3 separate regions of the Homo sapiens genome follow, and regions 1 and 2 are each linked to region 3. Evidence: fine-mapped expression QTL. A gene starts in region 3. Each other region holds a variant in brackets. All regions are shown on one strand. Distances are between the middles of the regions.

Evidence for each region. PIP is the estimated chance that this variant, and not a neighbour inherited with it, causes the effect.
Region 1: its variant is fine-mapped to the expression of XPC-AS1 in subcutaneous fat (GTEx, PIP 0.98).
Region 2: its variant is fine-mapped to the expression of XPC-AS1 in whole blood (INTERVAL, PIP above 0.99).

The regions. Positions count from the first base shown.
Region 1 is chr3:13,336,495-13,343,410 of GRCh38, reverse strand. NUP210 (nucleoporin 210) reads left to right here. Exons shown (of 40, transcript NM_024923.4): 21 at 108-236; 22 at 1,288-1,415; 23 at 1,528-1,663; 24 at 3,113-3,175; 25 at 3,378-3,557; 26 at 5,494-5,574; 27 at 6,493-6,624. Among named protein-coding and RNA genes, the nearest start is that of NUP210, 80 kb to the left of the region's middle. The variant G/A (reference allele first, on the strand shown) is at 3,372.
Region 2 is chr3:14,169,185-14,176,100 of GRCh38, reverse strand. XPC (XPC complex subunit, DNA damage recognition and repair factor) reads left to right here. Exons shown (of 16, transcript NM_004628.5): 2 at 3,039-3,234; 3 at 5,551-5,663. Among named protein-coding and RNA genes, the nearest start is that of XPC, 6.0 kb to the left of the region's middle. The variant A/G (reference allele first, on the strand shown) is at 3,568.
Region 3 is chr3:14,146,730-14,153,645 of GRCh38, reverse strand. XPC-AS1 (XPC antisense RNA 1) reads right to left here and starts at 4,084. Exons shown (of 2, transcript XR_001740603.2): 1 at 4,044-4,084; 2 at 195-3,804. XPC (XPC complex subunit, DNA damage recognition and repair factor) reads left to right here. Exons shown (of 16, transcript NM_004628.5): 11 at 1,230-1,311; 12 at 4,698-4,832; 13 at 4,915-5,084; 14 at 5,645-5,738; 15 at 6,267-6,356. RefSeq lists enhancers at 2,291-2,791, 4,409-5,093.

The DNA of each region.
Region 1 (6,916 bases), 810 kb after region 3:
ATAGGCTGGTGCTGAGGGCGAGGCACTGCTCACAAACCTGAGCAGAGGGGGGCCCTGCAGCTGCGTAACCCACCACCCACCCCTCCACCTCCGCCCCAACCTTGCAGGTGCACCCTTTGCTCCCGGGCTCATCCACCATCATGATCCATGACTTGTGCCTCGTCTTCCCGGCCCCAGCCAAGGCTGTCGTTTACGTGTCGGACATTCAGGAGCTGTACATCCGTGTGGTTGACAAGGTCAGTGGAAGCTTCATGACGGGGCACCCTCGGCTGACCTGCAGGAACTGGGAGGGAGGGGACTGTGGGAGGAATGTTCCGCATGGCCTTTGCTTTTGCTCCTGTGGTCTGCATCCCTTCCCCTGTGAGCTTGCGGAGCTGTCTCCCATCTCCTTCGCTCCATGTGGAGGATCCAGAGTCCCTTCAGTAAGGGACTTCTTCATCCCAGATGACATACCCATGAGGCTTGGCAGTAAATCCTGCTGTCTCTAAATTAGCCATGACCTGGGAATTCATGTCTTCTGGCTGGTGTAGGTTATTAACCAACGAGGCACATGCCCTGCTGAGCATGTATTTTCTTCCCAGAATATAGGTTTTGGGTTCACTGGGGTGTCAGTGGCAAATGAGTACAACTCACCCATGCCAAGCGCCATTGCAAAAAGAGACAAGGGATAGATCTCGGTTTATCTTTCACACTGATACAGAATTTTTATTACTCCAGATATCTGAGGTGACTGAAGCTGGGCTTCCAGAGGGTTGCGGTCAGGTTCCTCAGTGGATAGAAGGGCTGGTAATTAAAAGGGGAGTGTTCATGTGGCTTAGGCTCCTTAAGAAGCTAATATGCTGTACCCAGCCTCACATACTCCTTGTATAATCTCATTTCCACTGCTGTTTGCTAATCATCTGTTTCTTCGCTGTGTATTTCTGATTCTTATTTCCTAAAGTTCTTACTGTATTATACACTGCCAGGTGTGAGCTGTTCAGTCAGTGAGCATTTATTGAGCTCCTACTGGATGCTGCTGTTCTAAGTGGTGTCTCATCTCCCTAATTAGTGTATTAGTTACTTAAGAGTAGAATGTGGAATTTATGCCTCTAAGTATCCCCAAGCTCCCCCTCATCGATTTTCATTTGCTGACTGGCTGATAGTCCAGAAGTCAACCTGGGTGACTCTCCTGATTCCCAGGTCTGTGGGTTGAGGTTAGTGATGCTATCTCAGAAAGTCACGGAGCACCATAGATGGTAGGATTGGTCTTTTGGAGGCTGCCCCTGAACCTCTGTCCCCATGATGCAGGTGGAGATTGGGAAGACAGTGAAGGCATACGTCCGCGTGCTGGACTTGCACAAGAAGCCCTTCCTTGCCAAATACTTCCCCTTTATGGACCTGAAGCTCCGAGCAGCCTCCCCGATCATTACATTGGTGTGAGTTCTCCTAGGGGTCAGAGGAGGGCACCTCAGAGACAGTGCTGACCCCAGCTGCAGCCTTTCCCACGGGGTGGTCTTGGAGAAGTCCCAGCCCTTCCCTCTGTTTCAGGGCCCTTGATGAAGCCCTTGACAACTACACCATCACATTCCTCATCCGCGGTGTGGCCATCGGCCAGACCAGTCTAACTGCAAGTGTGACCAATAAAGCTGGACAGAGAATCAACTCAGCCCCACAACAGATTGAAGTAAGACGAGTTCTTCCCACACCATGTGGGATCAGCCCAGTGCTGGGGGTTGGGAGTGTCTTTATAGTACAGTCCAGGAAGCTACTGTAGAGAAGCCATATAAAAATCTGTGTCCCACAATGTCCTCTCATCAAAAGGCAGCTGTTACGAGCTCTAGGGATCTGGGAGGCAGCAAAGTTAGACTGGCAGAACCAGAGGGAGGGGGCCAAGTGACTTGACCTTTCCTCTGTGACTTGGGGGATTGTGTGGCTCAGAGAAGGGGTGTGCCTGGTCACATGGCAAGGGGACACACCAGGACTATTCCCAGAAAGCACTGACTGGGTGGAAGCTTAGACAGATGCTGACTCATGTGTAGAAGAACTCCTTAACCATTGGTCCTGAGCCTTAGAACAGGCACTTCGAGGGCAGTGGGCACCTGTCACAGGGGCTGCGTGAGCAGAGGTATCATAAAGGGAACTCCTGAAGTAGGTGATTCCTGGATGAAGGGAGCTTTGAGGTCCCCACACCAGCTCAGTGTGTGGTATGGGGCTGTCTCGGGGCATTAGGTTATGACAGGAGCCCCACTGCAGCCACAGGCCATGGCAGTTGTGGCCCAGGCATTGTTTTAAGTCTATTCACAGCAGCGGCATTAAACCAGCCCTGCCAGCATCCACCCTGCATCCGGGCCACTCGGGGGCTGGTGAGCGTCATTAATCTGTGATCCGAAGCAGGTGGGTGCCATCTGTGTCTCTAGATGGAGGTGCACCTTTCTTCTGGTGATGAGAAATTTGTTTCTGCCCATCAATAGCACAGCTACAGAGACCGATACTCCCACACAAGTAGCACCCTGGCCACCTCCTGCGTCCACTCACCTACTCTTGCCAGGCAGGCTCTTGTAGGGGTTTCAGGAGGAGCAGGTGGGGGCTTCACCTGCTGCAAAGAGTGGCACCAACGTCCCTGGTCTCCTCCCAGGCTAATCCGGAGGGTGTGCTAGAAGAGCAACCTCTGGGGGTCTGGGTGCTCCCATATCGGCAGGGCTGTCCTGTGGGGCCACCCCTGGCTCCACAGGCCAGGTGGCTGGGGCTGTACATTGCTAATGTGTCCCCAGGCGCTGCTGACATTGCTGCTTAGTGACCACACACTGAGAACCGCTGCTCTAAGGGGATGGCTCAACTGCATAAAAGCCATCCCTCCAAGGGGACGGCCCAGCTTTTGGGTTTTAACATCTAGGGAAAGTGAAACACAGTCACAAACAGAAGAACACACCCCAGAGAACCAGGGAGCCTCGGCCAGTGGCTGGGAGACAGCCCCCAGCATTGGCCCAGGACCCTGGGCCCTCTGGTCACTGCTCAGAGAGAAGTGATGTCCATGTCCCAGGTTTTCCTCTCATGAAACATGTAGTGTGTGAGTTATGCTTGGCGCCATGGGCTTGGGGCACAGTAGTCCTTTCTCTCCTGTGTCTCTCAACAGGTCTTTCCCCCGTTCAGGCTGATGCCCAGGAAGGTGACACTGCTTATCGGGGCCACGATGCAGGTGAGAGCCAAGAGGCCACGTCCTGCTCCAGCCCCAGTGCAGGCCACCACCTGGTTCCAGGCACGCCGCCTCTGGCCCTGCGTGCAGTGACTGGGAGAAGAAGGCAGAAGCTGCCTGCACTGGGGCCCTGGCTCTCTGAGTGGGAGGTGCGGGCTGCCTGGCATGACGGGCACTGACACGCCGCTGTTTCCTCCCC[G/A]CTCAGGTCACCTCCGAGGGCGGCCCCCAGCCTCAGTCCAACATCCTTTTCTCCATCAGCAATGAGAGCGTTGCGCTGGTGAGCGCTGCTGGGCTGGTACAGGGCCTCGCCATCGGGAACGGCACTGTGTCTGGGCTCGTGCAGGCAGTGGATGCAGAGACCGGCAAGGTGGTCATCATCTCTCAGGTAACAGGCGTGCTATTGGAGACTGGGCAGCTGTGCCTGGGACAGAAGCCTCTTTACTGTGTTTGAGTTCTACCTCTGAGGACCACCCCTCTCCAAGGGTGCTGCTTCTGCCCCCTGGGTCTGCAGTCACTGCAGGGGCCCTGGTGCAGGACAGCCCTGCCAATATGGGAGCACCCAGACCCCCATTGGTTGTTCTTCTCCAAGCTGAGTCTCCCAGTCCTTCCAGCTGCTCCTTATGGGACAGGGTGTTCAGCAACTCCCGGCCCCAAAGGGCCCTTCCAGTGGAGGATGATGGCAATCATGGTGAAGGCAGATGCTGCTCTGAGCACTTTGCCTTCATCTCCTTGAATCCTCTCAAGGCTCAGGGCTAAAATCAGGGCCTTTGCATTCTCCCTGACCTCCTTCGCCAGCAGTGACTTGCAGAAGCATCTCGGAAGGCTGCTTTGGGGTTCCACTCACAGCTGCGCCAGAAACCTGGTCTGTAAGAAGAGCCTTCTGTGATGTGTAATGCAACTGTGGACAGAAACCTGTTTCAGAGTCAGTCATACCATTCCTCATGAGAACTAGGTCCCCTGGAAGCAGTCCGTGCAGTCCTGAGTTCAGAACCTGTAAACACAGCACCCCAGAAGCTGGCAAGTGCACCGCCCTAGAGGGGGTGCAGGGAAATGCTTGTTCTCAGAGGCTGACTGTGATCCGTCATTGAGTTCATTGATTTACTCCTTTTCCCAGTGTGTGTCAATTATGAAGACAAAGAGAAAGACTTGGGGATGTAAAAACCTGTCCTGGGGATGGGGTAGGGTTCAGATGGGCTTCCTGGAGCGTGACATTCCAGACCACAGGAGACTCTGTGGTTTTTTTTCTCTAAAAAGGAGTGCAGCCTCAGGAGCTGGCTGATTTTTCTCCTGAGGGCGTAGGTAAAGGGCAGCTGGCTAGAAATTCAGCAAGAGGGGCACAGGGCCCTGCGTATTCCTTGTCTTTGTGGTCTAACCTTGCTGGGCACCCTCCCTTCTAGGTCCCCCATCTGGCAGGTTGGGGAGGTGCTGGGGAAAGGCCCTGGTGGTCCTTGGCAGGTGGAGGGGCTGCACCACGAGCCCTATCTGAAAGGCATGTTCTGAGCCCAGGCAGGCAGAGGTTTCACCTGCGGCGCCTTGTCCATGCCTGGAATGTGATTCTGGTCAGATGCTTCCAGTTCCATCTGTCCAATCCAGAGCACACAACCAGCACCCCAAGGCCGTGGGGTGGGCCAGGACTAGCAGGAAGAGACTGAGCAGAAAGATGAGTGAAAGGAGGGGAATGGGTGCTTTTCAAGCACTTACTGTGTGCCAGGCATTAGCCCAAGTCATGAGCCTCAAGATGGGCTCAGCCTGAGCACGTCAGAGAGTCTAAGGGTTTTAATAGCCTCAGTTCAGCATGACTCAGCAGCACTAGGAAGAAGCCAGGAGAGTTAGTCTTTGGCCAGATTAATAGGAGTGTGGAGTTCAGAATGAAGGAGGTTATAAGTTCTGATCAGACTCTACAGGGCTCCTGCATTCGTCCCTGTACCCTGCTCAGTCAGAGACAGGCAGGCTGGATTTGGGGTTGGGAGGGCCTGGAGACCTTTTGCTTGAGGGCAGCCAGGCCTAAGGAAGAGCAGGCACCAGTCCCCGGCCCCAAGTCTGCAGTGCTGACCTGGAACAGCTGGATCAGACAGGGCAGCAGCCTCAGGGGACTGGGTTGGGACCTGCGGGGCCTTGGGAGAGGCAGTGGCTGGCCCATGAGGGGAGAGCCACTCACAAAGCCAGGCCTCCCTCGGCAGAGGAGCATGGTGCTGGTCATCCTGAGGGGCCTTCTCGCCACAGACTCTGAGCCGCAGCCTGCTTCCCTTGAGGGGTCCCTTCCTGAAACATCCCTGGCCAGCACTGCATCCCCACACCTAAGTGCCACCCTGTTTCCCCAGGACCTCGTGCAGGTGGAGGTGCTGCTGCTAAGGGCCGTGAGGATCCGCGCCCCCATCATGCGGATGAGGACGGGCACCCAGGTGAGGGGACCTCCTGGGCTCTGAATCCTGGTTCCCGAAGAGCCACTGCTGGGACCCTGTCCTCAAGTTAGAGTGCTTCTCCACCTCCTCCATCTGCCTGGCCCGGGTATCTAGGGCCTGCTTCCCACCTGTCCCCACCCAGGGAGACACCCTCCATTGCTCTCTGGTAGCCACTGATGAAGGCCTGCTTCCTGCTGGCCTGTCACCTTCCCACATCTGGAATAGTACCAGGTGCCTAACAGGAGCACAGTGACTGTGGCACTTAACTCAACTCCGTGCTGTCTTGGACATTAATCCATTTGGTGTTCATAGCAGCCCTGGGAGGCTGGTGTCAGAACCATCTTCGTGTCGCAGATGAGCAAATGAACACACAGAAAGCTTAAGACCCGTGCCCAGGGCCACACAGCTAGGAAGTGGCAGCAGTGGGAGTGGACTGGGCAGCCTGGCACAACACCTGCTGTGGCCTTTTGCCGTCTTGCCTCCGCCTGTGCCCTCAAGCCGACACAGCAAATAGAGACTAAAGGAGCCAGGGACCCCACCCACACGTGCCCTGTGAGCAGGGACCCCAGCTAGATTAGGAGAGAGGGGCCCGGAGGAACCAGCACTGTGGGGCAGCACGAGCTGTGCTGCTGGGGGACCCATGGCCTCCTAGAGCTCCAGGGACTCCTTCCGGAAATGAGTATCTTGGCCATGGAGAGGTGCAGCCCGCTGCAGGGGAGGGACAGTATGGGGAAAACAGTCCCACCTCTGGTTTGCTCGTTTGATATTTCATCAAAATTCCCAAACCTGTGCCATGCTCTTCTCTAGTTGGGGAGGAATTGGGTTCATCTCCCACTGCTTGAAGGAGGCAGCAAAGCTTCTGGGGGCATTCCCAGTGCTGGGAGCTACTGCTCACTGGGCCTGACTTCTCCCCTGCAGATGCCCATCTATGTCACCGGCATCACCAACCACCAGAACCCTTTCTCCTTTGGCAATGCCGTGCCAGGCCTGACCTTCCACTGGTCTGTCACCAAGCGGGACGTCCTGGACCTCCGAGGGCGGCACCACGAGGTAGGTAACCACCCCCTCCAGAGCTCACCTCCCACCCCTGTCCCAGGCCAGCACCCCGAGTGGCAGGGAGGGTTCCTGCCACATTGTCCCACAGGAAGTCCCCACCCTCACACCTAGAGAGGCCCGCCCACTTTCTTCCCTCTCCCGAGGCTCATCGGGACTCCCTTCTCCCAAATGCTAAACACATAGACGGGGTGAGTAGGTGCCTCTCCCAACAGAAGCAGCCGTGTGAGGAAGTCACAAAAGTCCTGGGAGGTCAGAGTCTGCAGCTTCTGACCATTTTCTGAGATGA
Region 2 (6,916 bases), 22 kb before region 3:
CTGTGAAATGTAATAACTGCCTTGCGGGGTGGCTGTGAGTTTTCAGTGGGATAGCATATAAAGCCAAGAGCTTTAGCTTTACCCATGTTAGGTAAATTAGTTGGGCTAGCTGGTGTCATTCAGCCTAAACGGAGGTAAAGATGCACCCAAGTTTATTCTGCTAGCCAGAGGAGCTAGCAGTCAGTTCCCAAGGCAGCTTCCAGGATCTGCAGAGTTACAACCTTTGTTGTGGTTTGGTGGTTTTGTGGGGAAGCATAGACTTAGCAAGTATGGTTTGGGCTGCAGATGACAATAATTTGGTGACTGTCAGTGTAGTTGCTAACACTGTAATAGTGTAGGTTTTAATAGCACCCCTGTACATGCAAATGAAGGTGATACTTGGCTGCTTTTGACAAATAGGAGAAAAGAAAACAGGCTTCCACATGATTTCCTTTGTGTTACTAAAGCACCTCTGGTTTCTTTTCATTTCTTCTCTGTGTTAACACCTTCAGTGATATCCATTAATTCCTTCAACAGCTGTTTATTGAGCGCCTACTATTTTCACACACTGTTCCAGGTACTAGGATAATATTGAACAAGACAGATGAGGCACCTGCTCTCATGATTATAATCTGGGGGGAGGGGTACTTAGAGCAGATAACAAGTTAAAAAAAAACGGATTCACATGATGATAAGAGCTATCACCCTGTGCTAAGACTGCTGTGATAAAACTTATTTGGGTACATAGCAGAAAATGCTTCTATAGATGAAAAGAAAAACCCTCAAACTTATATGGGGCTGGGGGAGAGGCAGCTAAATGGGAATCAGTGTCAGGGAAGGCCTTTGTAAGGAGGTGGCATTTTGAGGCATTTAGTGTAATTTTGAGCCATTCATAGGAAGTTCTGGGGAAAAGAGTTCTAGGCAGAGAGAACAGTGTGTTTAAACACTCTTAGGAGGGAATGAACTTGGCCAGTTGGCTGGACACAGCGAGCGAGGGGCTGGGTAGGAGAAGTGAGCAAGGGCCTGAGCTTGGATACCAAGCTAAGGAGTTGGAATTTTATTCTGAGTGCTATGAGTTGCTGCTGGAAGGTTTACTCCGGTGTTCTTATTAAATCCCAGTAGATGGGCAAGCAGACCACAGTGGTAATTCCTGCCCTACTGAAAGAACACTGAACTCAAGGAGTCTGGTTAGGCATATTAGATAACTCAAGATTTTGGAGAGTCCTGGAAAAGAGTCTCTAGATGCTTAGGGACCAAAAAATAGCAGAGAACAGAAAGTCACCCATATTTCTGCCATCCAGAAATAGCCACCATGAAATAGTGGTCTGTTTCCTTCTAGTCTGTTTTTTATATAGCAGAAAGCATACTGTAAAATCAACTTTGCATGAGTAACATTACATCATATATCGTTTTTCTTTATCTTAAAGGATGACTCAATTATATTTTGTTGTGTGGCTCTGCCATAAGTTACTTAACAATTATCTCATGGTTGGACATTCAGATTATTGTTAGATGCTTTTGAATACTATGAACATCCTTTTGATTCAGAGTTTTTGTGTTTCCTTTATCCCCCTTTCCCTTTTAACTCCTCTACCTTTCTCTTCAAACGGAAATAAAAGCTGTGCTTTTTAACCAACTAGAAAAGTTTGTGATGCCTCTGAAGTATCCTCCTACGTGCATTTTTTTAGATTAGTAGAAATTGAAGTGTTTAGCATCTTTGCCTATTATTAGAGGGCTAACTACCATTGTAAGATCCAGAAATCTTGATTTTAGGGGCACCCTCCTCAAACTGTCAAATCTTAAGCTTTATGCAACCTCTGGCCTTGGAGTAGGCAATCTGTTCTCAGATTTGAAAAAATTAATTTTGAAATAATTTGTACTTCAAAATTTTTCCTTATTTTTTGGTTTCCATACAATGTTTAAAAATGGGAATGCATAAATTCCTTTTTTATAAAACATTTAAAGAAACAACGGAATCAATGATCTAACATTAAAATAAATGCTCCTTTGTTATGAATTTTATTAACATTTAATCATGATTTCATTTAGATCAGAAGGGAGAGTCTTTTTTCCCTCATGCAAAAGTATATTCTTGTGGAATATAAATACCCATCCAGAGAGTCAGCAAGACAAACAATGAAAAGACTGAATTATTAAATAATTTTATATTTTAGGTTAATATTGCAATCCCTTTTGGAACCTCAATAAAAGGTAGAGTATTTTTATTTTCTAAAATTAATTGAAGCAGAGTCATGCAAAGACAAAAGATTTATTTCAGATTCAAGATAATTTGTGTGAATATATTTGCAAAATAGAAAACTATCCTTCCCTGCCATATTATTTGTTAAAACTAATCTATTAATATAATTATTATATGTAAATAAACCATAATTTTAGATACCCCAATTTGACTAAAACCAGCAGCTTATGCATTTTTTATTTCCCTTTAACAAAAAAATAATTACTTTAAGAAAATACTTTTGAATTATTGCTGTCTTTTTCCAACTGTAAGTTTGCTGAGGTGGTTGGTATATGAGTGCCATTTGGGTTACATTGGAAAGGTTTCAGAGCAGTATGTGTTTTGAGCAGTTTGGTCTTGAAGGTTGGCAGAAATGTAGATTAATAGTAATGATGTTGTGGTAAAACTTGGACATGTTTATGTACTTAACATTTTACTTAGGAGTACATTATCCCTAAGACAATTAATTTTGGCAGATAATAAATAAGGTGCTAATTAATGGATGTTGTATTTTCCTGGCAGGAGGTTAGCTGACATTTAAGATCTGGAAGTTAGGTTTTATTTGAGTCCTATGGTATTTTCTGTAGTCATAGGAGAAGTAAAGTGCTGATAAAGGAAGATGGTTTTTACTGTGAATATAGACTAGCCGCAGGTGGGAAGAAGCTGAGAGCTGGTTGCTGACCAGACAGGGGATGGTGAACCAGTGATGGAGATGGGGTTTGGAGACAGGTCATAGAGCCGTTTTATGCCCCTGCCCATAAGCTGCACTGCCTCCACCTTTCCTTCCACCCCTCACCTTATGTTCTGTGTTGTCACCTAGATGCCTTTGAAGATGAGAAACCCCCAAAGAAGAGCCTTCTCTCCAAAGTTTCACAAGGAAAGAGGAAAAGAGGCTGCAGTCATCCTGGGGGTTCAGCAGATGGTCCAGCAAAAAAGAAAGTGGCCAAGGTGACTGTTAAATCTGAAAACCTCAAGGTTATAAAGGATGAAGCCCTCAGCGATGGGGATGACCTCAGGTGAGATGTCTGCAAAGCTTTGTCTCGGGTCTTGATTTTTCTCATCAGAGAATTGTGAATAATGAAAACCTCTATTCTTACTTGTCACTGGGGTCCATGGAAGATTGGATCTTTAAATTCTTCTAGGTACAACTCAGACCGGTAAGAGCTGGAAACTTTTCAGATAAGAACAGTGACAGCATGCAGTAAGTGATTTATTCATGCTTCCACAGCTGGACAGTGGCAAAAGCAGGAGAACCCAGGTCTTCTGACTCCTGGTCCAGTGCTCTTTCTACTACACAAAAATATTAGATGTATACAAAATATTTACCTGCCATTCCAGCTTTATCTCAT[A/G]CTACTGTCCTCAAGCACGCTCTTCTCCGGCCCACCTGAGCTTCTCATCATTCACTGAACACATTCTCCTACTTTCTACACCTGCATTGTGCTCATGGTATTCCCTCTACCTGGAGTGCTTGCTGGCTTCCATCTTGAAGATGCAGATCTGAAACCACCTACTCCAGAGGCTTCACTGATTCTTCCCCCTTCTCTCCTCTGACTTCCTGTAGCGCTTCTAGGGAGTGTGATATGTCTGCCAGTTATTGTTACCATGCCACATACCCAGGCTTACTACCCTGTGACCTCTCAGAGGGCTGGAACCATGTGGGGTTCCTTTTCATATGCCCTGTAGCATCCATTGCAGGCCCTTTTATTTGGCAGAAACTGAACAAGTATTTTTGCAATGAATGAGCATTTATATTAATATGTTGTGAACAGTGATTATGAGCCCAGGGAACACTTGATTTTCTGCCTCCTAAGAAAGTTGAGGGGTGGGGAGAAGAGGAAGAACAGAGGGATAGTTTTTCATTTGCTTCATAAACAAATCCTCACTGCCAGTATCAGCTTTTCCAGCAGCCTCTAGTCCTGGGATGGGAGAGTAGTCCAGTAGAGGGCACAGGAAGGGACACGGGACAGCATGATGATTTTCCGCCATGATCCATCTCTTCTCCTTTTCTCTAGACTTCCCTTCCCGTCCCGCCCCGTCCCGTCCCCATCCCGGTCCCGTCCTTAATGGAGTCTCGCTCTGTTGCCCAGGCTGGAGTCTAGTGATGCAATCTTGGCTCACTGCAACCTCCGCCTCCCAGGTTCAAGTGAGCCTCCTGAGTAGCTGGGACTGTAGGTGCCCACCACCACGCCCAGCTAATTTTTGTATTTTTAGTAGAAACAGGGTTCCACCATGTTGGTGTCGAACTCCTGACCTCAGGTGATCTGCCCTGCTCAGCCTCCCAAAGTGCTGGGCTTACAGGCGTGAGCCATTGCGCCTGGCCTTCCCTAGACTTTTCTGAAGAATACCTCTGAACTTACTGCTTTCCAGTTGCCTCCCCTCACTAGTTGAATTCTATCTCCAGAGACATATACATAGAGATAGGCCACGATACTGCCAAGGAAAGCTCTGGGTCCCCCTTTCCCTCTCCCCTGAGCATTGACTGTGGTCATTTCTGCTATGTTCATTCTAAGGGGAAATTTTTATTGCTGGTGTTTTGAGAGAAAGTGGTACTCTAAAAAAAGAGTGTATTATTAGAGCTCAAGATTGATGATTGGTTATTTTAAATGTTTATACCAAAATCCTAGATAATATTCTCACTTGGTACCAAGTGCCAAAGTTTACACAAGTTAAAAGTAACTGGATACTCTAGACACATTTTATATATGAATTTGCAGAAATATATTACGTATCAGCAAGTACTTAGCCTTGAGCCATTGTTTAGCCAGCTACTTATCTATGTTATTATCTACTTAGCTAGCTAGCTGTCTATGTCTCTTGTTATTTATGACTCACCTATGTGTAGTTACATCCCTGCTTGAAGTTAGAATGCTATGAATTTCAGTCTCCTTACATCATATTTCTTAAAGATGGAAAAGAAGTCTGAGTAGGCTTATAGTAGGATATATAAATGGAGATTTTATTCTGTTCTTTCTGGCCTCCAACTGCACATATATCACACAGATATCACAGTTCTGGAACTCATTATTATTTTGGTGTCTTCTAATTTTTCCTTGTCATGTCCAGGCACAGCTATGTTTTCTTTCACACGATCTAGATTGTAGGTTTTTTAACAGCACATCTGGTAGTAATTAGACAGATGATCAGAGCACATCTTGATGAGATTTGGAACACATGTTGATGGAGGAAGTGAGGCTCAGAGCTTACTAATCATCTTTAAATAGTTGCAACAGATTCTCAATAAATAGGAGGGGTTTTAAAAATTCCATTTAGCTTGAATGGAACACTAGGATGTCTGAGTCTTCTTCATCTTCCTTCCTGTGGTCTTTACACAGGGACTTTCCAAGTGACCTCAAGAAGGCACACCATCTGAAGAGAGGGGCTACCATGAATGAAGACAGCAATGAAGAAGAGGAAGAAAGTGAAAATGATTGGGAAGAGGTTGAAGGTGAAACATCTTTCTTTGTTTTCAGAACTGTTTGGTTCTGTTTGTTTTTTTGTTTGATTCTGTTTGGAGTCAGATCACTAATTGCAATCCTTTTGTTTTCTTTTGAGCTAATTAGACCACAGATAAGGTTGTACTAGGGACTTGCTTTGATATATATGGAAAAACTCATGGCCAAGTTACCAAAGAAGGCTGTTTACTCTCTTCCTCTGGTGACTGTCAATGGGGTAGATATAAATAGAGAGGCAGCACTATTTAGGAGAAGGAGCACAGGCTTTGAAAGTAGTTAGAATTGGGTTCAGTGCTCAACTTTGCCACTTAGGTGGCAGTGTGAGTGAGTAATTTAATCTTGAGCAAGTAACTTCACCTCTCTGAACTGAGTTTTCTCATTGGTAACACTCTGTAAACACTGAATGTTTAGTGTGAGCCATTCACAGTATAGGCTGTAGGATTATTGTGGGGAAAAGAAAGTTTGCAAATGTAATGGGCCTAATGTATCATACACTCACAGTAAATACCAGCTAATGTTATCATCCCTGATTCCTTCTGTCTGGCCTGACTTTTCCTCACCTTTTTATTTTGAAAGTGTTCAAATTTATAAAAAGAGTGAAAAATGTAATATATGTCCTTCACCTAGGTTCATTAACATTTTGCCACATTGAATGTATGTTTCTCTCTGTAAATATTCATTGTGGAACCATTTGAAAATAAGTTGTAGATATTCTGATACTCCACTGCTGAATACTTCAGCCTGCATTTCCTAATAATTAGACATTCTCCTGCATGACAAAATGACCTCATCACACCTACGAAAATGAAAAATAAGTCCCCAATTGTTATGAAAGCATCCTTTATGCCTGTTTCTTTTTCCATACCAAGATCCAACCAAGCCTTGTATTTGGTCTTTATGTCACTTTACTCTCTTAATATAGAGCAGTATTTCCCACCTACCGCCTTGTTTTGCTTTTCATAGCACTGCCTTTTTTGAAGGATCCTAGTCTTTTGTTTTGTAGACTGTCTCATGTTCTAGTTTTGTCTGATAAACAGTCACACATCTCATGGTGGTGTTAAACTTGTTTCAATATCCCCTGTATTTCTTGTAAACTAAGTCCAAAGACATGTAATTTTGATTAAACTTTTATTTTTTTTCCAAGAATCCTTCCTAGATGATGCTTTAAACCTCATCTTGCATTGATTAAGCCACCTCTAATGTCAGGTTGTTCCTCTTCTAGTCATGCTACCTTTAAGCTAGCTGT
Region 3 (6,916 bases):
TCATGTAGGTGGAATCATACGGTATTTATGGTCATTTTGTGACTGGCTTATTTCACTTAGCATAAAGTCCTCAAGGTTCACTCCTGTTGTATGTAGCATGGGTCATAGCTTAGCTGAGCCTCCCTTAAACGTGCTGAGAACACATTAGCCTACAGTTGGGTAAAGCTGTCTAACACAAAGCCTATAATGAAGTATTGAATATCTCATGTAGTTTATTGAATACCGAAAATGAAAAAGAGAATGGTTGTATGGGTACTTGAGGCACAGTTTCTCCCAAGTGCATATTGCTTTTGCATCATCATAAAGTTGAAAAATCTTGAATCAAACCACTGGACTTTGGGGACTGTCTGTACTGAGGCTCAGGAAGGTAAAGTGACTTGTCCAGGTGGCCCAGCCAGGAAGTGGCACAGGCAAGGTTCAACCTCCATCCATTGTGCTGTGCTGAAATTCAGCCTCAGATTCCTCTGTGGGTAAGGGTCTGAACCTGCACTAGGAGGAAATGGGGTGCCCTTGCTCATTGGAGCCGCTCCCTGGACAGAGTGAAGGGGGTGCAAACTAATGAGATGGGCGTGCCTTATTAAAAATGGCTTGGCAAGGGAGGGGTTGAGCCTCATTGGAAAGTAGATTTGCACGGCTTTGGTGAGCTCTTAGCTCGGGAGGAAGAGTGAAGCCAGAGGAACTTTGCCTGCAGGAATCATTTGACTGTTCCATGTGCAGGTGTCTTGATTCTGTGATAGCTTATTAGCTTATTATAGTTGGCTTCTCTGCAGCCTTCCTTTGGGTTCACTGCCCCCTCCTGGACACTTCCCTCCCCCACATGGTGTTAACAGCAGATCAGAGCCTCAGCAGGTGTTCGCTTGGTGGTGGTAGTAAACGTGAGTGTGCCTGCGCACAGCGGCCTTTACCCCATCCTGATAGTCTGCAGCTGGAGCTCTCACAGGCTCTGGACAGCAGAGGAGAAGAAAACCTATGAAGGGGAGGAGTGGTGGAGGCAAGGCACAAAGGCTGCAGATTAGGGTTTGTAAGTGGACACATCCCCCAAAAGACAGGCAGTCCACGTTCAAGGCTGTTTGCCTAGCACAGCTTCTCTGGGCCCCCTAGGAGCTCGGCCTGCTCCAGGGTGGCTGAACCTGAGGAGGGAGCCTGCAGGGCTGCGCTCTCCACTGTCCCGCATTCCCGCAGTGGGGCTGTGGACTGAGTTACCTTTGTGTCCTGTGTTGGTTCCACAGGGATTGTGTGCACACTCTGCATTCCAGGGACACGTGGCTGAAGAAAGCAAGAGTGGTGAGGCTTGGAGAAGTACCCTACAAGGTAACTGGAGCTGGGGGGTCCCTGTGGGGAGTGGTGACACAGGCCTGTAGCTGAGCGGGAGAGCTGGGGGCAGAGAAGTGATGATGAGCCTCCCAGTCCTGCCCAGGATCCTGATCAGAAATGTCTCACTTTCCCGGCTTGAGCAGGATTCAAGGAGGAGAGAAACATTTAAATTGTCTTATTAATAAGACATTTGTAAGAAATGGATCTTCCAAAACACAAAAGAAATCTAGGCCAAAAAGTAGGCCTCAGACTCCTGTTGTGAATTCAAAGGTTCTACAGGTTGGAATTGAGTTACTGGGTCCTGGGAGGTCAGAGCCCTGCTTTATAGCAGCACGTTCTCCAGTCAGATTGCCCTTCTGTTTGGCAGTTCACTGAGCATTTTGCATGTATGTGATCTCTGTTGCCTCAAAAGCCATAGGAATTGGCATTATGATGCCCATTTTACAGATGAGAAAACTGAAGCTCAGGGCAAGTGACTTGTCCAAGTCCCCACAGTTAGTAAAATGGCAGAGCAGAGCCCAGGTGAGAATCCCAGGCTCTGCCTTAAAGCCAGTGCTCCTTTCACACTGTGCTGCGGCACTGTTAGGCTGGTTGCTCTTGAGGAACACGAACCGAGCGAGGTCCCACAGAGACTATTCACAGGACACACAGCTCCGTACGACCGGAAGTGTACAGTGGCTGATCACAGAGACCATTTACTTCTCATCAGACCCCAGGAGTCCTTGGGGGTTGCAAGACTCCGGGAAGCTGAGTGGGGAGTGGAGGGGCCTCCGCTTAGTGGGAAAGGCTGCAGGCGCTGGTCACAGTCACTGCCAGCAGCAGGCTGGAGTGGGCGATGCCCCCTGCCTGGGCCTGCAGGGTTGCTGAGGATTTTCTCTGCACCATCTCACCTGTCTTTTGTGCTGGAACCAGCATAGCAGTGTTCAGTTGAAATGTAACGTGAGCCACACATTTAAATTTTTTAGTAGCTACATTAAAAACCAAAAACAGGTGGAATTTTAACATTAAAATATATCCAGATATATCTAAAATACTATTTCAGCAGTAAGAAATATTTTAAAGTGTTGATGAGATATTTAAATCCATTTTGTTCCTAAGTCTCTCTAATCTTCTGTGTATTTGACTTTCTGTACCTTAGTTCAGACCAGCCACGTTTCAGGTGTGCAGTGGCCACACGTGACTGGTGGCTGTCATGGTAGCACAGTTCTGGAATCCCAAATCTCTCAAATTCACCCCTTGTTCTGATCCCCACCACCCCAGCTCCTGCCTCAGTATCTTTTGCTTGGGCAACAGCCACAGCCTCCTTCCCAGCCTGAATCCATTCCCCTGTCAGTCACTAGGCTCTTTCTGTGCATCTTGGCCATCCTTGTCCCACCTTGGCCAGCGCCTTTAGTCTGAGTCCCGCACCCTCCCCATGGTGCACAGTGATGTTCTGGTGCTCACTGCCTCTGCATTCCAGAGGACTTAGGCCCCAGGTCCCAGTGTTCTCCCACCTCTGTGCCCTGTGGGGTCCAGCCCTGTTCTCTTGGGCAACCCCTTGCCCCTTTAAGCCTCTGCTCAGGCGGGACCTGTTTTGAGCAGCCTTTCTTGCCTCCACTGTCCTCAGGGCTGGGCAATGGCTTGCCTCTGAGCTCCTGTTCCACCCTGTACTCATCACGCTGAGTCGTAGCTCTGTCTCTTCCCCTGCAGGAGCCTGAGCTCCTAAGAGCAAAGACTGTCCTCGCTCCATCCCTCCTTCATGACTGGGTCATGGCCTGGTCTCCAGGAGATCCCAGTGGAAGTTTACTGAACAGTGTGCTGGGTGAATGGCTTCTCAGAAAGGGACGGTTGTCAGAACTCAGAGTCCCTCTGTCCCTGAAGTGGTGACAGAGAGGGTGCGCCCAGAGATCATGGCAGGAATGGACATGAGAGCTCGCAGGCCACCCCCAACCTGGGGAATGGCTTTTCACATTTTTAAAGGGTTATAAGAATGAGAAGAATAAAGAATATGTGATGGAGGCCACGCATGACCCTTTACAGAACAAGCTTGTGGGCCCCTGCACTAGAGGAAGTCTGTATGCTGAGGCCCAGGGGCCAGCCCTCAGCCGCACGCCCATGCCTGACTCCTCTAAGAGTTACGTGACTCTGTCCTTGCCTGTCCTGCGCCCCTCTCACCACTTCACTCCCCAGGGAAGATCTTGGCCTTGGCCACTGCACGCTGTTGGGGAGCACACTGGGAGTCCTGAACTGTCAGTGCTTTCTAGGGCGTGTGAGCAGACATAGGTTATATGTTGAGACACAGGCTCTACTGATGGACAGTTACCTGAATTGTAAATCCTGGTTCTTGTCACTTACCAGCCATCAGCTCTTAAGTGACTTTGTCTCTCAGTCTCAGTCACTGCTATCAGTGATGACAGCACAGAATATAGGCTAGTGGATGAAAGTGTGGGCTCTGGCCCTTACGAGCTGTGTGACTTTAGGCAAATCATTTACCCCGTCTGTGGTGTTCATCTGTAAAATGGAAACAATAATAAGACCTACCTTGTGGGTTTGTTGAAAAAATTAAATAATAACATATAAAGCACTGAAGATAGGCTGGGCGCAGTGGCTCATGCCTGTAATTCCAGCACTTTCGGAGGCCAAGGCAGGTGGATCATTTGAGGTCAGAAGTTTGAGACCAGCCAGGCCAATATGGTGACACCCCATCTCTACCAAAAATATAAAAATTAGCTGGGCATGGTGGCGGGTACCTGTAGTCCCAGCTACTCAGGAGACAGGCACGAGAATCACTTGAATCCGGGAGGTGGAGGTTGTAGTGAGCTGAGATCACACCAGGGCACTCCAGCCTGGGCAACAGAGTGAGACTCCGTCTCAGGGGGATAAAAAAACAAAAAACACCGAGAATAGTGTCTGGGACAGAGAATGTTCCATAAATGTTAGCTAGTGCTTGTAGTAAGAAAAGGGGAGCAGCCGGGCACGGTGGCTCACGCCTGTAATCCCAGCCCTTTGGGAGGTTGAGGCGAGTGCATCACCTGAGGTCAGGAGTTCGAGACCAGCCTGGCCAACATGGTGAAACCCCCGTCTCTACTAAAAATACAAAAATTAGCCGGGCGTGGTGGCAGGCACCTGTAATCCCAGCTACTCAGGAGGCTGAGGCAGGAGAATTGCTTAAACCCAGGAGGCAGAGGTTGCAGCGAGCCAAGATTGCACCACTGTACTCCAGCCTGGGCGACAGAGCGAGACTCTGTCTCAAAAAAAAAAAAGGGAGAAAAAGCACCCCAGCTGGTAGGTGTGTTCTGAGGGTTCACCAGGTACCAGGCATGCGGCACTGAGCATGGTGCCTGGCCCGGTGCTGAGGAACTGGATGCCTTTGTTGTAAACGGTGGCCGTGTCCTCTGGTGCAGATGGTGAAAGGCTTTTCTAACCGTGCTCGGAAAGCCCGACTTGCTGAGCCCCAGCTGCGGGAAGAAAATGACCTGGGCCTGTTTGGCTACTGGCAGACAGAGGAGTATCAGCCCCCAGTGGCCGTGGACGGGAAGGTAAGGGCAGCATCAGAAGGGCTCAGGACCAGGCCGCCTTGTTCCCCTGCTGGCCAAATGCTGACTTGCTCACCCGACACAGGTGCCCCGGAACGAGTTTGGGAATGTGTACCTCTTCCTGCCCAGCATGATGCCTATTGGCTGTGTCCAGCTGAACCTGCCCAATCTACACCGCGTGGCCCGCAAGCTGGACATCGACTGTGTCCAGGCCATCACTGGCTTTGATTTCCATGGCGGCTACTCCCATCCCGTGTGCGTGAGGGGCCTTCGATGGAGGCTAAACACAGGGATGGGGAGGGGTGGCTCCAGAGATGGGGATGGAAAGCTGGCATGGGGCTGCTGGGAGTTGAGGCCTGGTGGCTCCAATTTTCAGGATGTTACACTGGATTTGCAAAGTCAGTGCTTTACCAATTCTGGCTTCCCTCCAGAGGGAACGGAGCCAATGAAACTGGCATCGTAATGCTGGATTAAAACGTTCTTCCCAGGTTTAGGGACTCACAGGCTAGTGAGCAAAAAACAGTCAGCATCTTTCCCCGGCAGCTGCCTGGTTAGTGAGCTCTGTTCCATGATGGGTGAGGCTGGATAGGGGCTTTCACCCCAGCTTTCTTCGGCAGAATCTGGGGAGGAAGAGGCAGTGCCAGCTTCCACAGGCCTGCCTTCTGCACGGAGGATGTGGGACACTGGCTGACCCGCGACATCCTTCAGGACCCCTAGTGCTCAGATGTGGCCCACTGTCTTCCACAAACTGGGGAGGGAGGAGAGGCAGAGCAGGCAGCAGGTTCGAGGGTTGACATCGCGTTGTGTCCCCACAGGACTGATGGATACATCGTCTGCGAGGAATTCAAAGACGTGCTCCTGACTGCCTGGGAAAATGAGCAGGCAGTCATTGAAAGGAAGGAGAAGGAGGTAAGCGCATATGCAGGACTGAGGGACAGCAGAAGCGGGAAGCAACACTCAGCGGGTGGCCTCTTCCTTCCCCAGGCCGCCTCCGTGTGCTCCCAGGCTCTTCCCAGCCCTCTCTGACATCATGGCAGGCACCCGAGGGAGCGAGCACTGAATACAGCAGGCTCCTGCCCACCCCGCAGACTATCACTGTCCCTGAGGAGCCTGGGTCCGGGCTCTGGGGTCTACTGCCCCTGCTGCCCACACCTGCCTCTGTCTTGAATTGCCTGTGTCCAGGTTCTGGAAGACCTCACCCACTAAAGATTTTGGAGTCAGTAACGATTAAAAAGTTATCTGTTTTTGTGGCTTTCAGGTATAGTATATCACTTTGTAAATCAGATCAATTTTTTGGAAGTGAGACTTGGTGTGAAGGAGAGGCTATATTCTAAAGTGGTGTATATATCTGTCTTTACATTCACAGTTTCCATCTTAATATTTTTCCTGAAAATGTCAGTGCTTAACACTTTTCTCCCACTTCATTTTTGCCTGCAGAAAAAGGAGAAGCGGGCTCTAGGGAACTGGAAGTTGCTGGCCAAAGGTCTGCTCATCAGGGAGAGGCTGAAGCGTCGCTACGGGCCCAAGGTCAGTGCAGGTTCTTTGCAGAGAAGACAAGCTCAGGGTCAGTTTCTTGGAGATGCAGCTCAGAAAGGCCTGGCCCAGATTCTGCCCCAGCCTCAAGTCAGGGATAGCTTTGTGTTAGGACACCTCAGTCTTCTGTCTCTAAGGCCGCTTGTTTTTACCTTGTTGGGAAAGGTGTCCCTGGAGTGAGGCCTCAGCTGGCTCTTCTGCCCCAAGCCCTGTCCCAGTGTCCCCGTTTCTACTGTCCACATGAGCAATGCCATGGGTCTGATTTGGCGCTGAACACATAGGGAGGGCCAAGTGTCCTGCATTTGGTGCACCCTTCCGCCTTCCAGTGTTCCCAGTGCCTGTGACCATGCTGCAGGCCTGCAGTGGCCCGCTCAGTACCTCTCTCACAGCACCTGCCATGTGCCAGGCCAGGCTTGGACACAGGTGTGAATTTGACATGCAGCCCTCAAGGGGGCCCCTCCCTGGGGCAGATGGACCCTAGGCCCAGTTACATGGTATAGTCAGTGCTGTGTCAGACACAGCAGAAACTGCTCTGGCATGTTTTGTTCCCTCTC